Regions from separate parts of the Homo sapiens genome. Here region 2 is linked to region 1. Evidence: fine-mapped expression QTL. A gene starts in region 1. The other region holds a variant in brackets. All regions are shown on one strand. Distances are between the middles of the regions.

Region 1 (4,383 bases):
TACATTCAGATCAACCAAAATATTTTACCCTGTTTCATTCTTCTTCTGCTTTTTGGTTTATGCTTTCAGTTTTGTTTTGTTCTTTTTTAAACACACATACACAAAATTCTCCTGCAGGAGCTAGATTTTATGCAAAAAAAGGAAAAAAAATGAAAATAAAAAAACCCATATATACATATTTCCCTTTCATTTACAAAAAGAGCATACACAGGGCCGGGAGCGGTGACTCACGCCTGTAATCCCAGCACTTCGGGAGGCGGAGGCAGGTGGATCACGAGGTCAGGAGTTCAAGACCAGCCTGACCAACATGGTGAAACCCCATCTCTACTAAAAATACAAAAATTAGCCAGGCGTGGTGGTGTGCCTGTAATCCCAGCTACCTGGGAGGCTGAGGCAGGCGAATTGCTTGAACCTGGAAGGCAGAGGTTGCAGTGAGCCGAGATCACGCCACTGCACTCCAGCCTGGGTGACAGAGTGAGACTCTGTCTCAAAAAAAAAAAAAAGGAGCCTACACAGGCCGAGTTTGGTGGCTCAGGCCTGTAATCCCTGCACTTTGGAAGGCTGAGGTGGGCAGATCACTTGAGGTCAGGAGTTCAAGACCAGCCTGGCCAACACAGAGAAACCCCGTCTCTACTAAAAATATAAAAATTACCTGGGTGTGGTGGGGCACGTTTGTAATCCCAGCTACTCGAGAGGCTGGGGTGGGAGAATCACTTGAACCAGGGAGGTGGAGGTTGCAGTGAACTGGGATCGTGCCAGCCTGGGCGACAGAGTGAGACCCTGTCTCAAAAAAAAAAAAAAAGAAAAAGCATATACAATAAACACCAACCTCCACTTCACTTGTTTTCCCTTAATATATGTTGGAGGCCACTATATCAGTGTATAGAGATTTTCATCATTTCCTTTTATCTACCTCATTCCTTTTTAGAGTTGCATAGTATTTTTTATGTGGATGTATTATAGTTTCTTTCAGCCAATCTTCTTATTTAAGAACATTTGGGATGCGTGTAGCCTTTTGCTATGATGAACAGTATCACTGTTTCCCCTTCCCTCTCGATGTACTCGTTAAGAAGTGGTACCCTGCCCCACTGCTACCTAGGAATCTGATGACTACCCTGTTTCCCCAAACTGGCTCTAGGAGTATCTTTTATTCCTTCAACGAACATTAGCTGGGCGTCTCCGGCGTGATTGGCGCTGTGCTGAGAACACAGTGGCGACAGAGACAAACCTAGTCCCTACCTTCATGGAACACACGGTCATAGACATCATAAAACAGCACACAGATAAGAGTCGGATAACAAATTAGACCACACGTGACATGAAGGAACACGGACCGACAAAAGCATTTAACAGGCGGATTTCTGGATGGAGGGCAGGGAAGGAGGGCTTCGCAGAGGAAGTGACGTTGGTGCCGAGACCCGAAGGATGAAATGGGAGTTAGCCAAGCCGAATGGGTAAAAGGATGTTGCAGGCAGAAGGGACAGCCTGTGCAAAATCCCCGAAGCGGGAAAGCGCATGGCAAGTTTAAGGAACCGAAAGGCCAGGGCGGCTGTTAGAGGTGGGGGAAAAAGCAAAGAGGCCGAGTCGAAGCAAGCGAGGTCTGCGGGGCGGTGGCGCCCGGGGGGCCACGTTGGAACTTTGCCTCGAGGGCACTAGGGAGCCAAGGAAGGGTCCTGAGCAAGGGAAGAAACATGGGTCGCGAAAGCCACTGTTCCCCTCTCCCCACGGCGATGCCCTCCCCGCCCGAGCCCCTGCTTCTTTAGGAGCCTCCTCCTTTCGTCTCCGGGCCCAAACGCCGCCTCCCGCTCACCGCAGCTCTGGCCTCCGTTCCCCTCGCGCCCCCTCAGCAGTGCCTCTTCCTACACTCCGCCGCCGCCGCCGCCGCCATCTTCCGTTCGTCGCCGGGAACGGTGCGCACGCGCCACACACCCAGGGCCGCCGGGAAATGGAGTCCAGAGCACAGCCCGACCCCGCCCATGCCTCGTCCCGTGCGAGCGGCATTCTGCCCGCCTCCATACTACGGCGAGCAGACCCTTCATTTCCGGCTCTGGGTCCGGCTAGGCCTTCTGGGAAATGTAGTCCCTTCGGAGGCACCGGGCGGAAAGGGAGCTAGAGCATTCTGGGAAATGGAGTTCTCAGTGGTGCTGAGTCCCTGGACGGCTGGCTGGTCTTGGAGAGTGCGGAGTTCGGGCAGCGAAGCTCCTGGGTCTTGGAGGGGAGGTGGTCTGTTGCCCTAGTGGGGTCTGCGGAGAGGCCCCGATCCCCTCCATCTTTGTTCTTGACCCTTTCAACAGTCTGAAGCATTTCTTTTTCTTTTCTTTTCTTTCTTTCTTTTTTTTTGGAAACGGAGTCCCGCTCTCTCTCCCAGGCTGGACTGCAGTGGCGCGATCTCGGCTCACTGCAACCTCCGCTTCCTAGGTTCAAACGATTCTCCTGCCTCAGCCTCCCGAATAGCTGGGATAACAGGCACGCACCATCACGCCTAGCTAGTTGTTGTATTTTTAATAGAGATGGGGTTTCACCCTGTTGGCCAGGCTGGTCTCAAACTCCTGACCTCAAGTGATTCGTCCGCCCGCCTCGGCCTCCTGCAGTGCTGGAATTACAGGCGTGAGCCACCGCGCCCGGCCAAGTTAAGCATTTCTAGCCGTCGGAAGCCTCAGTCTTCCTGTCTGTCCAATGGGGATGTGATTTCGGGGACCTTTTACGGGTCCTTGTAGTCGCATAGTGGCCCTAGCGTTCTGATTCCCCTTTCTTCCGCCACGGTCATGCAGGGCTCTGGCTCTTCGTCCTCTCCTGCCGAGATGATGAAGCCCCCTGAGGTAGAAAGGCTCCAGAGTTCTGACCTCGGGGCCCTTGGTATCTGCAGCGTCGCTGCGGGCAGCTCCCTCACTCCTGAATCACCCCCAGCTGTCGCGTCCTGGGGCTGCGGCCCCCGGCGCCTGAGGTCTGTCTCCTGGCGATCCCGCAGGGGGCGCCCCAGTCCGAGCGCGCCGCCCTCGGGGAGGCGGGAGGGGAGCCCGGGGCGGGCGAGGGCGGGGGTGTCCCGGCTATAAAGCGTGGCCGCCTCCCGCGGCGCTCGGGACAGCCGTACCCCGGGCGGTCGGACGGGCGGGCGCCGGTGGGAGCTCGGGCCGTGCCCGCTGAGAGATCCAGAGCGCTCCGTTCCCCCGGGGCCGGAGCGGGGGCGGGTGGGGGCGTAAGCCCGGGGGATGCTGGGCTCAGTGAAGATGGAGGCCCATGACCTGGCCGAGTGGAGCTACTACCCGGAGGCGGGCGAGGTGTGTCCTCGGGGATGGCGGAGCGGGAAGTTGGGGGCAGGTATCGGGGTGTGGGCTCACATGGAGCAGGGACTGGTTGTGGGTTCAAATGGAGGCAAAGGCGTCTACTTGGGCAGCTGAGGAACTGGGAACACGGAGACCAGGTGTGGAAGTCGGGGACCGGGGACGAGGCATGGATGGGAGCGCTGTTTGGGCAGCCTCGCCGCGGCCAGGGCTTAAAAATGGAAGTCAGGAAAATTTAGCCAAGGGTCGGGTCACACCTTAAACTTGGGAGCCGGGTGTTGGAGCCCCAAAAAGCAAGGGATTTATATGTACAAACCAAAGATAGGAATCAGAGTTCCAGGGTAGGGGACAGACTAGGGGGTTTCAGGATGTGAGGTTCAAAGTTGGAGGGAAAGAAAGACTAAAAGATGGAGGAGGAGTCACCATTAAGGGGAAGACTGAGGTGGGAGCTCAGGGCCAGCACACAGTGTTAAAGAACCGGGGTTCGGGGCTAAGGATCAGCTGGTAATCTAAGGTAGGGTCAGACATAGGGATTGGTGCTCAGGGGTCAGAGATGGGGGTGCTCAGAGATGAAGCTTCGTTTTTGGAGTCTGAAATAACAGGTGGCTTAGAGTTGGGCATCTGGGAGCAGAAGATGTAGCCATCAGCATTGGCAGGAGAGGGGCCGATCTCCACCCCCCCATCCCTACCCATGACCCTCCGCAGGGACTCCCCAAGTCGGAAGATGGAGAGTTTTAGATTGTGCACCTTCCCCTGCTCCCCGCCAGTCCAGCAACCTCCAGCTATTGCTAAAATTCCCATCCAGTCTCACCTCAGACAAGGCTTCCCTGGAGTGGGGGGTGGCGGCATATTCTAATCCCCTCACCTGGACAGACAGAAAGTCCTTCCTCAAGTCTGACCCCCATTCGTCTTGCTGCAACGACCCCTACACCTTAGCTACCTCACTCTGTAATCAACGTTGTGAGGTTGTTGGGGCTGGGGGTTGGGTTCTTGGTCTGAGAATTATGGGGGTCTGGACACTTGGACTTCTAACCTGGAAGGGGACTGTGGGCTTGAGGTGGGGTGTGGGGCAGGAATGGCTAGGTTCTCCAAGGAGTCAAGA
Region 2 (4,383 bases), 160 kb before region 1:
AAAAAAAAAGTGCCAGGCTGGGCATGGTGGCTCACACCTGTAATCCTAGCACGTTGGGAGCCTGAGGCGGGCAGATCACCTGAGGTCAGTAGTTTGAGACCAGCCTGGCCAACATGATGAAACCCCATCTCTACTAAAAATACAAAAATTAGACAGGTGTCGTGGTGCCTGCCTATAATCCCAGCTACCCGGGAGGCTAAGACGGTAGAATCGCTGGAACCTGGGAGGCAGAGGCTGCAGTGAGCCGAGATCACGCCACTGCACTCCAGCCTGGGCGACAGAGTGAGACTCTGTCTCAAAAAAAAAAAAAAAGTGCCAGAACATAGTATCTTTCACCAGTGTGTGGTGGCAAGGCAAGGTTACCTAGAGGTTGGGCTTGGGCTCCTGGGTTGTGGTGGGCTGCAGTGGACCTGACAAAGTCTCCTCTGTCACTTCAGGGGTACCCGTGCTCCATCTCATCTCCACGCCCTTCCCTGCTGTCTGGCACACCCCTGCGGACACCGAGGTCAATCTCCACCCACCCACGGTACACAACTTGTGCCGCATTCTCGCTGTGTTCCTGGCTGAATACCTGGGGCTCTAGCGTGCTTGGCCAATGACTGTGGAGAGGACTGTGAGAGAGAAGGTCCCAGCGGGGGCCAGTGAAGCTCAGGCAGGATCTGCCTAGGGTGTGCTGGTTTGTCCTTTTCATACCTTTGTCTCCTAATTGTGCTACAATTGGAAGACCTTCTTTCTTTTGATTGTCTCAAGCTGCCACCCTTCAAGGACAGGGAAGAGACCACTGTGGGATGACAGCCAGAGGAATAAGAACTTGCTCCCTCCCCAGAGGTAAACACTTGGTCCAAAGGTTTGCAGGGACCAAATACTGTTCTTTTTTTTTTTGAGACGGAGTCTCACTGTGTTGCCCAGGCTGGAGTGCAGTGGTGCGATCTCGGCTCACTGCAAACTCCGCCTCCTGGGTTCACGCCATTCTCCTGCCTCAGCCTCCCAAGTAGCTGGGACTACAGGTGCCCGCCACCACGCTGGCTAATTTTTTGTATTTTTAGTAGAGACGGGGTTTCACCGTGTTAGCCAGGATGGTCTCGATCTCCTGACCTTGTAATCCGCCAGCCTCGGCCTCCCAAAGTGCTGGGATTACAGGTGTGAGCCACCGCACCTGGCAAAATGCTGTTCTTTAAGTCAGCGAACTGAAAAAGTAAAAGACTGCTGGGTGTGGTGGCTCACACCTGTAATCCCAACACTTTGAGAGGCTGAGGGGGAAGGATCACCCGAGGTCAGGAGTTTGAGACCAGCCTGGTCAACATGGCGAAACCCTGTCTCTACTAAAAATACAATAATTAGCTGGGCATGGTGGTGGGCGCCTGTAATCTCAGCTGCTTGGGAGGCTGAGGCAGGAGAATCACTTGTACGCAGGAGGCGGAGGTTGCAGTGAGCCAAGATCACACCACTGCACTCCAGCCTGGGCAACAGAGCGAGACTCCATCTCAATAAATAAATAAATAAATAAATATTTTTTAAAAAGAGTAAAAGACTAAAAGACTATTACTGGTCTGGCCCAGTGATGCCACCCAGCTAGATGAATTCTCTGTGGTTTGTGTTGTGTCAGTTCATTCTCCAGAACAGCAGCCTTGCTACTGCACCAGTCCTAACCTAACTCCCACACGGGGCACACAGAGGATGTCCTCATAACCAGGCACAGAGGAGACAGAAGCTCATATTTTGGAAGTCCAGATTCTTCCAGACCCAGTGGGTAATAAGCCATTGTTTCTGGCTGGGCATGGTGGTTCACACCTGTAATCCCAGCTCTTTGGGAGTCAGAGGCAGAGGGATAGCTTGAGCTCAGGAGTTTGAGACCAGCCTGGGCAACAGAGCATGACCCCATTCTCCAGAAAAAAGAAAGAAAAAAAAAAGCGTAACCAATGTTTCTGCAAAACACCACCTGCATAAGCCAGGTGTGGTGGTGCACACCCTGTAGTCTCAGCTATTCAGGAGGCTGAGGTGAGAGAATCCCATGAACCCAAGAGTTCAAGACCAGCCTGGGCAACACAGTGACACCCTGTCTCAAAACAAACACCACCACCACCA[A/C]CAACAACAAAAAAGGCCATTCTGTAGAACTCGTGTAAATAGACATTGCATGACAAGGGGGATCTGAAATCCAAGAAGAGGGTGAGACAACATAAAATGAGTTTCCTCACTGCATCATGTGAATTTTTAAGACAGAACCCAGAGGCTCCCAAAGTATTTCACTATGGAACACTTTTTATTGGGAAGCACTTCATAGAACTAGGATACTTCGGCCGGGCATGGTGGGTCACACCTGAAATCCCAGCACTTTGGGAGGCCGAGGCCAGCAGTTCAGCTGAGCTCAGGAGTTCGAGAGCAGCCTGGACAACATGATGAAACCCCATCTCTACTAAAAATACAAAAATTAGCCAGGTGTGGTGGCATGAGCCTGTAATCCCAGCTACTTGGGAGGCTGAAACAGGAGAATTGTTGGAACCTGGTGGCAGAGGCTACAGTGAGCCAAAATCACGCCACTGCACTCCAGCCTGGGCAATAGAGCGAGGCTGTCTCAACAAACAAACAAAATACAACAACAACAAAAAGAACTAGGATACCTCAGAAGGTACTTTGGAAAACATGGGGTTTTGAAAGTCTGAGAGCATCTATGAGAGGAATGGGTAAGACAGATCTAGATTTACCGCAGAGTAGTTAGGGCACACTGTCTTTCCCCTTCAGCTGTTGGTACAGCACTGTGAGATGGCAGTGTAACTGCAAACTCCAATGAGCAAGTATTTCCCAACCCTACCTAATTTTCAGACTCAGCTGGGGTGCTCATTAAAAAATGCAGACTGGGTGCAGTGGCTCATGGCTGCAATCTCAGCACTTTGAGAGGTTGAAGTGGGAGGATCACTTGAGCCCAGGAGGTTTTTCTTTTTGAGGCGGAGTCTCGCTCTGTCACCCAGGCTGGAGCGCAGTGCTGCAATGCTGGCTCACTGCAACCTCCGCCTCCCGGGTACGAGCGATTCTCCCGCCTCAGTCTCCCAAATAGCTAGGACTACAGGTGCGTGCCACCACGCCTGGCTAATGTTTGTATTTTTAGTAGAGACAGGGTTTCACCGTGTTAGCCAAGATGGTCTCGATCTCCTGACCTCGTGATCCGCCTGTCTCGGCCTCCCAAAATGCTGGGATTACAGGCGTGAGCCACCGTGCCTGGCCCACGCTGTCCTTAAGGAGACACTTTGGTGCATACACAGCTGCTCAGCAAACCGACTCAAAAGAAAAACCTGAGACAGATGGCACCTGGAAGCAGTCCTACGCTGTGTAGGTGAGCATCTGCCCTCCAAATCAGCTCCAGGGCTGAAACTCGGGGTATCAAATGAGAGGATAAACATAGGTCCTCAATTTAGGTTCTTCCACATTCGCTGACATTTATTGAGCATCTACTATGTGCCAGGCATCATGAGAACTTTTTTTTTTTTTTAAGATGGAGTTTCGCTCTTGTCACCCAGGCTGGAGTTGCAGTGGCACAATCTCGGCTCACTGCAACCTCCACCTCCTGGGTTCAAGCGATTCTTCTTCATCAGCCTCTGGAGTAGCTGATTACAGGCATGTGCTACCATGCCCAGCTAATTTTTGTATTTTCTTGGTTTGGGGGAGAGAGTCTTACTCTGTCGCCCAGGCTGGAGTACAATGGCGAGATCTCAGCTCACTACAAACTCCACCTCCTGGGTTCAAGCGATTCTCCTGCCTCAATCTCCCAAGTAGCTGGGAATACAGGCACCTGCCACCATGCCCTGCTAATTTTTGTACTTTTTAGTAGAGATGGGACCATGTTGATCAGGTTGGTCTTGAACTCCTAACCTCAGGTGATCCACCTGCCTCGGCCTCCCACAGTGCTGAGATTACAGGCATCGAGCCACCATGCCTGGCCAATTTTTGCATATTTAGTAGAGATGAGTTTTGCCATGTTGGCCAGGCTGGTCTTGAACTCCTGACCTCAGGTGTCCACCCGCCTTGGCCTCCCAAAGTGCTGAGATTACAGGCGTGAGCCACCGTGCCCAGCCCATGAGAACTTTTTTTTTTTACATATACAAAACTATGTAGTCTCCCTGACTACAAATCCTGAAATAGGTACAATTTCAGTTCTCATTTTGCAGGTGAGGTGGCTGAGACTGAGAATTGCAAACGAGTTGTGTATGGTGTGCAAATTTTCACTCACAGCTGTGCTCGCAACCCCCATGTCCTATCTCCCTTCCAAAAAGTACCTGTGGCTGGGTGCGGTCACTCACCCCTGTAATCCCAGTCCTTTGGAAGGTTGAGGCAGGAGGACTGTTTGAGCCCAGAAGTTCCCGACCAGCCTGGGCAACAAAGACCCTGTCT

Evidence for each region. PIP is the estimated chance that this variant, and not a neighbour inherited with it, causes the effect. A credible set is the group of variants that fine-mapping cannot tell apart.
Region 2: its variant is the best candidate, but not a certain one, in a credible set for the expression of SYMPK in caudate (GTEx, PIP 0.60).

What each region holds. Positions count from the first base shown.
Region 1 is chr19:45,861,248-45,865,630 of GRCh38, forward strand. SYMPK (symplekin scaffold protein) reads right to left here and starts at 1,900. Exons shown (of 27, transcript NM_004819.3): 1 at 1,811-1,900. FOXA3 (forkhead box A3) reads left to right here and starts at 3,079. Exons shown (of 2, transcript NM_004497.3): 1 at 3,079-3,278. The coding sequence starts at 3,210. RefSeq lists enhancers at 925-1,563, 1,815-2,224 and a silencer at 2,865-3,274.
Region 2 is chr19:45,702,467-45,706,849 of GRCh38, forward strand. QPCTL (glutaminyl-peptide cyclotransferase like) reads left to right here. Exons shown (of 7, transcript NM_017659.4): 7 at 438-1,521. The coding sequence ends at 583. Among named protein-coding and RNA genes, the nearest start is that of QPCTL, 12 kb to the left of the region's middle. The variant A/C (reference allele first, on the strand shown) is at 2,086.